2 linked regions of the Homo sapiens genome follow. The protein of the gene in region 1 interacts with the protein of each later gene in a pairwise test. Each region holds a gene or a part of one and is shown on either strand. Other genes may lie near its edges.

Evidence for each region.
Region 2: the proteins of GATM (region 1) and TNFAIP1 interact in binary tests that used the Homo sapiens proteins (3 or more experiments, as listed by UniProt).

The regions. Positions count from the first base shown.
Region 1 is NC_000015.10:45,368,274-45,372,090, reverse strand, and holds part of GATM (glycine amidinotransferase, mitochondrial isoform 1 precursor), read left to right. Parts: intron 1-2,569; coding exon 2,570-2,765; intron 2,766-3,817. UniProt on the Homo sapiens protein: Transamidinase that catalyzes the transfer of the amidino group of L-arginine onto the amino moiety of acceptor metabolites such as glycine, beta-alanine, gamma-aminobutyric acid (GABA) and taurine yielding the corresponding guanidine derivatives.
Region 2 is NC_000017.11:28,341,968-28,345,784, reverse strand, and holds part of TNFAIP1 (BTB/POZ domain-containing adapter for CUL3-mediated RhoA degradation protein 2), read right to left. Parts: intron 3,539-3,817; coding exon 3,343-3,538; coding exon of another isoform or gene 3,221-3,342; intron 1,422-3,220; coding exon 1,185-1,421; coding exon of another isoform or gene 1,082-1,184; 3' UTR 1-1,081. UniProt on the Homo sapiens protein: Substrate-specific adapter of a BCR (BTB-CUL3-RBX1) E3 ubiquitin-protein ligase complex involved in regulation of cytoskeleton structure.

The sequences.
Region 1 (3,817 bases):
CAGCCTCTGTTTAAGACTTTCACTGGCATCATTCAGTTTTTCTAAAGACCTGTTTCTTGGCTTATTCCTTATTCACCAAGCTAGGTTCCAGCGTAACTGATGTGAACCTGGATATTGAACTAACCAGAGATGGGTCCACTTTCATATATTTGATATTTGTCAGACTGAGATAAAAATGGAAGTCGAGACACAAAATCTAGAAAAGATATTGTTTTTGACATTAAAGAGCTAAACATCTAGACATTTGATCAGTCTTGATGAGTAAAAGCCATTGGGACAATTTGAACTTGTTAAGCAATTCCAGTCTTAAAAGTTTTTGCACATCTAGTTAGAAGTGTTCAAACCAGTATAACATGGCCAAGTCCCATGATGTATTAGGGACACTCTTTGAGTAACAGTCAGAGAACTTGAGTTCTAGTCCTGCTTGTCCAGATAGCTAGCAAGCATGTGACCTGCCAGAGCCTCTTTCCTTACATGTGAAATAAGCATATGAGAACTTGCCCTGTTTCTTTGATAGGATTGCTGGGAAACCAAATGAGAATATCCAGCTAAAGTAGACACACTGTGACACACTTGAGCCCATTACCAAGTTTTACACCTTTCTAGTACTTATTGCTATCTGAAATTATCTGATTTATGGTGGAGACTGTCATATCTGACATGATCAGGACTAGTAGTTTGTCAGTTCATCAATTATATAAATAAACATTTTTAAAATACCTGCTTTAACCAGTTTTAAACAAAAATTTAAATTAAAACACTTAAAACATTTTTAAACTTAAAATATATCAATGTACATTGCTTTGCTAATCTTTTGATGAAGGTTCAAGGCTTTTTCTTAGAGTCTGGATTCTCTGATTGGCGTTCTGCTTCATTTAGCTTGAAAAATGGGAAGATGCATCACGTACATTTCTCAATGTATTTATGATTGAGAAATTGACTAAGAACTTAGACATTTGGAAAACAATCTGAATGCAGAATCTGTCTAGATTTTTACATTTTTGAAAACCAATATTTTGGCCGGGCATGGTGGCTCACACCTATAATCCCAGCCCTTTGGGGGGCCGACGCGGGTGGATCACGAGGTCAGGAGATTGAGACCAGCCTGGCCAACATGGTGAAACCCTGTCTCTACTAAAAATACAAAAAATTAGCCGGGCGTGGTGGCATGCGCCTGTAATCCCAGTTACTCAGGGAGTTGAGGCAGGAGAATCATTTGAACCTGGTGGGAGGCGGAGGTTGCAGTGAGCTGAGATGGTGCCATTGCACTCCTGTCTGGGCAACAGAGTGAGACTCCATCTCAAAAACAAAAACAAACAAACAACAATATTTAACAGCTGTTGCACCTACCCTATTCAACAATAATTTTTAGCAAACTGATTGAGCCATTTTAAAGCATTCAAATGTTTTCTCTTTAGTTGTCTTCTAAAATACACATAGCCCTGGAAACTTTCTAAATTTTTTTTCAGTTATTAAAAATTTGTGAATTTGCTTATCATATCACTTCCTTGTATGACAAAAAGACTTGAAGAGATGTGAGAGCTGAATGGATTAGAAAAAGGAGAGGTGTGGTTGGTATGAGGCATATTGACAGGGAATTACCAAAGGCAGATTTGCACTGTCACACAATTTTGGCAAGTGTTAATTCTGTTGAATGGGAAAATCAATAATGTTTTTTTTTTTCTTTTTCTTTTTCTTTTTCTTTTTTTTTTTTTGAGACAGAGTCTCGCTTTGTCACCCAGGCTGGAGTGCAGTGGCACGATCTCAGCTCACTGCAACCTCTGCCTCCTGGGTTCAAGCAATTCTCCTGCCTTGGCCTCTGAAGTAGCTGTGACTACAGGCACGTGCCACCATGCCTGGCTAATTTTTGAATTTTTAGTAGAAATGGGGTTTCCCCATGTTGGCCAGGCTGGTCTTGAACTCCTGACATCAAGCTATCTGCCCGCCTCAGCCTCCCAAAGTGCTGGGGTTACAGGCTGAGCAACCATGCCTGGCCAATAATGGGGTTTTAAGAGAAATAAAGCATATTTGAAAGTATGCTCCTGATCTTAACGGGGCAAAATATCTTTTTTTTTCCCTTCACAAAATATCTTGAGGTGCTATTTTCTAGACAGAATTCTGAGATGCATGGATAGCCCATGGTTTTGGCTTAGTATAAGTGCTTTTATTCTCTTATGCTAGTTTGTGTGTTCTCTTGTTTCATTTTATTGAGGCTCTCTAATAGAAGTGCTATGTCCTGTTTTGTCTGCAAAGCATGGCAAAAAAACTGGCCAAGAGGATTCCAAGTCTGTCTGAAGGTAAACATGCTGTTAGTGGTTGGCCATGAGATCTCAGGCAGGAGGAGCAAAAGGCCTCAAAATATCAAGATGTTTTAGAGTTCTTCATTCAACAGATACTGAGTGTCTGCCCAGAGGGCTTATGTGCTCAATGCTAGGGATCAGCACTGAACATGGAGTGGTTGGAGTCTCAATTCCAATACCTTATACAAAGAGCTGTTTACTGCCTATGAACCTATCATGAGCTGTATTTTTCTCCTGTAAGTATTGTGTTTATTTGCTTCTACTTCCAGGCCAACACATATGAAAAGTACTGGCCATTTTACCAGAAGCAAGGAGGGCATTATTTTCCCAAAGATCATTTGAAAAAGGCTGTTGCTGAAATTGAAGAAATGTGCAATATTTTAAAAACGGAAGGAGTGACAGTAAGGAGGCCTGACCCCATTGACTGGTCATTGAAGTATAAAACTCCTGATTTTGAGTCTACGGGTAAGTGATGTCAGATAACTAAACTGCCAGTGTCTGAATTTTCAATTTCTTTCTTAATGTGTAAGGGGAAAGCTCCAAAAAATTTCTTGGAGAGTCCTTTGCTTTGCTAGTTCTTGAAAACTTTAAAGATTTATTTAGGAATGGTTTGGTCCATGTTGATATGATTAAGATGTATACATTCTAAACTCCATTCCATCTCGTGGAATCTCCTTGAAATGACAAGTTTTCCTAAACTTTATAGCCATTTCCTTACATAATAACAGTGGATTCGTTTAATTTTCCTCAAGAACAGAAATTAAAAGGGGAATAGAAACATTTCCATTTTATTTTTAACTGACATTGCTGCATGACTGTTCTTGTGCCTTAGGTCACTGTTCTAATTTCTAGTTTTAGATTGATCCTTGGCTCAATTTTTATCTTGTGATACCGATAGTCCTTTAAGAGCTGTGTTTCTGTATAGCAAGAAAGGAGCTTACAAATGGTGAAAGCTTGGTGGTTCAAGATCTCTTTGTACAAGGACTTTATTCCTTCACTTTTTTTTCTTTTCTTTTTTTTCTGGGCTTCCCCCCCACCACACAATTCATGTTAACAATCTAGTATGTGTTATTCGAATTTTTTGCTATTTTCATATATATATACACACATGTATTTCTAGCAATTTTTTTAACCAAAAAAAGAGGTAATATTATATAGACATTTTTTGTTTGTTTGTTTGAGACAGAGTCTCACTCTGTCGCCCAGGCTGGAGTGTGGTGGCACAATCTCGGCTCACTGCAGCCTTTGCCTCTTGGTTCAAGTGATTCTCCTGCCTCAGTCTCCCGAGTAGCTAGGATTACAGGCACGTGCCACCATGCCTGGCTAATTGTTTTCGTATTCTTTTAGTAGAGATGGGGCTTGACCATGTTGGCCAGGCTGCTCTTGAAGAGGATCAAGTGATCCGCCCGTCTTGGCCTCCCAAAGTGGTGGGATTACAGGCATGAGCCACTGTGCCTGGCCCTATATAGACCTTTTTTGTCTTGGAAATTAACACTACTGAAGTTGTCATGGAATTT
Region 2 (3,817 bases), on another chromosome or scaffold:
TCCTGTCATCCCGCGCTCAGAGACACCACTGGGCAGAACCGCCATCCCAGCCAGCACCAACCAAGAGCATAGATGGTGTGGGCAGGGAGTAGATGTGTGGCCAAGCATGTGCCACCTCTGTAGGGGCTGCTGGGAGTTTGCTGTCCTCAGCTGATGGGCATGCCAGCCAACACCATGCAGTGCCCACGGGCTCCACGGTCTTCCTGCCGTGGCTCATGTTTCTGGCCCATGTGACAGCTCTTTGGCTTTACCGTATGTGAGGACAGCATGGCTGGAAGCCAAGGGTACTCAAGAGAATCACAAAGAGCAGTCGTGCTAGACCTAGGAGTCAGTGATGTGACTATGATGTGGGGGTAAAATGTCCTTTCTCACAGGCACCCTGTGAGGACTGCCGGTCCCAGCTTAGCCATCCTTCCCTCCTCGGTGCACTCTGAGCTGCTGGCCAGGCTGCAAAGCCAGAGCTGCTCTGTCGGATGTTTTTTTTTTATTGCTTCCTCTTTATCCCCTCCCTCAGATTGATTCTGCAGGGAAGTGGGGATTAGGGTAGAAAGACATGGGTCAAGGAGATTATCAACCTCCTGAATAACAGTACAAAGTGCTTTAAAGAAACAGATCCCACAGGCATGGAGAAGGGCCAAGGGTTCTGTCATATGTAGGGTCTTGGCACCCTGGAGGGCAAAAGAAATGCTCAGTTTCCTCATTACTAGATTTAGAATTATTCATTTCCTAGATTATTTTTTAAAAACCAAACTTATCAAGCCTGTGCTTAAACACCTTAGGAAAAAAGACGTCCCACTTTCTGCACCAGGGCCTCTACAGCACCAGAACTGCCTTTCCCCCAGCTGAGGCCTAAGGGGCAGTAGCCTTCTGCACAGGGCCTAGGGGAAGGTTCTCAGCAGGAGGTGGGTCAGTCCATATGCCCCAGGGAGCAGAAGCAGCTCCGTCGGGCAGGAAGGGTGATGGTGAGCAGATAGGACAGGACGCAGTCTCCAGAAGTGCTCAGGGGCAAGGCAGGGGAATGTGGTCCCTCCTCTGCCCAGACCCTCTGACCTCTGAGCAGGGCCTGTCATGCCTCTGGGTGCTAGAGCAGAGACCCAGGCAGCAGCAGCATGGGGTGGCCAATGGGGCGGGTTCCACAGGATGGGAGATAGGGCCTCCCGTGCCCTGACTCCCTGAGGGTCTGGTCAGTCGCGATGGGTAGACTGGTGGCCGAGCTGCCGGTCATCGTAAGTGCTGTAGCGCTTGACGTGGATGCGGCGGACACGGTCCCGCAGTTCAAAGGTCTCCTCATCTTCACTGGGGGAAGCCTGGCTGCGGCTACGGCTTGTGGCCTCCAACAAGGAGTTGTCGGGGACGCGGGGAGTCTCATAGAGTAGGACGTTGAGTGTCTCCTCATAGATTCGGGCCTCTGGGAATTCCACCTGGGGTTAGGGAGGAAGAAGGTGGAGCAAGGTTTCATCTTCAAGAGGAAGCCATGCGTCAGAGCGGCTGGCCCTGAGGCTCCATAAGGCCTCCGCTACCTCTCATAAAACAGGTGGCGGTCCGTCTCCAGGGAAAGCCAGCCTCCCTCCGAAGGCGGGGTGAGGGGATGTACTCTACAGACATGAGGACAGGGAAGACCAACATCCTCCACACCCCTGCCCCAGCCTGAGACCAAGGGACTAGTGGGCATAGAGGGTGGGCCAGAGCTAGGTCCCAACACAGCTCTACCACTTGCTAGCTGTGGAGCCTTGGGCTGAACCCTTCTGGGCTGCAGCTCCCATATGTACAAAAGGTTGGTTCAGCTCAACCCCTGAGAGTTGCTGTCAACATTACGGGAAAGATGTGATTGCTTAGCAGAAGATTGGCACACAGCAAACCACCAAGCAGAGGCATACACAGAGCAGCTGCTATGCTGAGTGGTTATGCTGCCTTTCTCTGCCTGCCTGACGCAGTGTGTCACCGGCATGACCTGCCTGGAGGAAGGAGAAAGGGAAGGCAGTCAAGCACCTGAATTCTAGCCAGACCTGCTCTGTTGGACTGAGCTTCTGTTCACTCATCTGTCACATGGGGAGAGTGGCTCTAGCCCTGCGTGTCTCACAGGCATGTTGTGAGGGGTCACACGAGTTCATGAAAGACAACACACTTAAGAAGATGCCAGGTGCGCTGCCACTTCCGTCGCAGCATCACCAGCCACTGGAGACCTGCCCCTGAACCCTTTCACCACCGATAGGGTCAGGAACCACCTGTCGCCCTCCCTCCCACCCCTACACCAAAAACCGCAGAAGGAAGCAGGGCCACCTGTAAGTTGGCCTTCCCCAAACCCTCTGCAGATCTCCCAGCTGGAGGCACCTGGAGTAGTTTGGGGGTCGACAAGTTGCTTGGCAAGTCTGGCTACTTTGAGCTCTTCACACCCACATGGCCCTTCCTGGATGACCTGCCATCCACCCCAGCGTATCATCTCCAGGACCTGCACTCACAGGAGGCAGCTACTCTCTGGGGTAACTGACTGCAGCCTGGGGGAGAGGGGCCACCTGAGTTTGTGATGACTGTCACCTATCAAATGCCTCCTGTGTACCTGGCACTAAGTTGATTAGCCAGAAACCCCCAGCTGGTTGGGGCCAGTAAGGAGATTTTATTTTATTATTATTAAAAGTGTTTGGAAGTGGAATCTTGCTATTTTGCTTAGGCTGGCCTCAAACTCCTGGGCTCAAGGGATCTTCCCACAGCAGCCTCCTGAGTACTTGGGACTACAGGCATGTGCCACGATGCCTGGCTAATTTTTCTATTTTTTGTAAAGACGGGGTTTCACCATGTTGTCCAGGGTGGTCTTGAACTCCTGGGCTCAAGTGCTGTGCCCACCTGTGTCCCTGGCTCAGACAGGAGATCTGAACAGCATTCTAACACGAAAGCCCAAGCTGTTTCTACACCACACTGCTGCTCCAAAGAGTTGTATCATTTTCATATCTCGTTAAATTCATACTATCATCCCCATGTCTGCAAATGAGGAACCTGAGGCCCAGATGGCTTAAGTGGCTTATCCAAAGTCAGAAAACTGGCAAGTGGTGTGAGCCAGCGTTCAAACCTGAATTGGGCCAACTTCAAAGACCCAGTCCTTCCCACTGTACTAGGCTACTTCCTGGTGGTCAACGGCCCCTGCCCTGCGCTGTCAGGAACAAAGCAGTTCCCGTCCATTCCCCACACCCCTTGTTCTGGCCTTGTCCTTGCCCAGCACCATTACCGTGTTTGGAAAAAAGAGCCAAGTCCATGCCCCTTTTGCTCCGTGCTGGTCACAGCCCGACCACGTCCCCCGCACAGTGGGTGTGTGTCCTCCCCTACCCAGGCAGGGGCAATCCCCCACACCTTGGTCTGCTTCTTCTCCGTGGCATACACGATGGAGGTACAGCACACCTCTGCCAGCTTACGGCCCTGGCCATAAAAGGACCAGCAGCAGATCTCGTCACCAATGACATCCTTGATGAAGAGCACGCGGCCGTTGAAGCGCAGGGAGAGCTTGTCAAACAGCTCGATGTTTTTCAGCAGGTGGTCGTCAGAGTTGCTGAAAAAAACATGAGGGCCAAGCGGCTGGGAGTGAGGTTCCAGTCCAAGGGAGGGTGCTAGACAAGTGGGGCCCTCCCCTCCCTCCCTTCCCCCATCCTGTCCTGCCGAAATGAAAGCAAGATGCCAGGGGGCCAGGAGAGAAAGGATCATAGGGTACCCTCTGGGTTGGGGGGCCTGTGAGGAAAAGGAACTCAGTTGGTTTTAAGTCAAAGTAGGGACAGCTGAGGAAGGAGGTCTCCCCTCACTAACCCTGGAAGGAAGGAGACAAGGCTGCTAT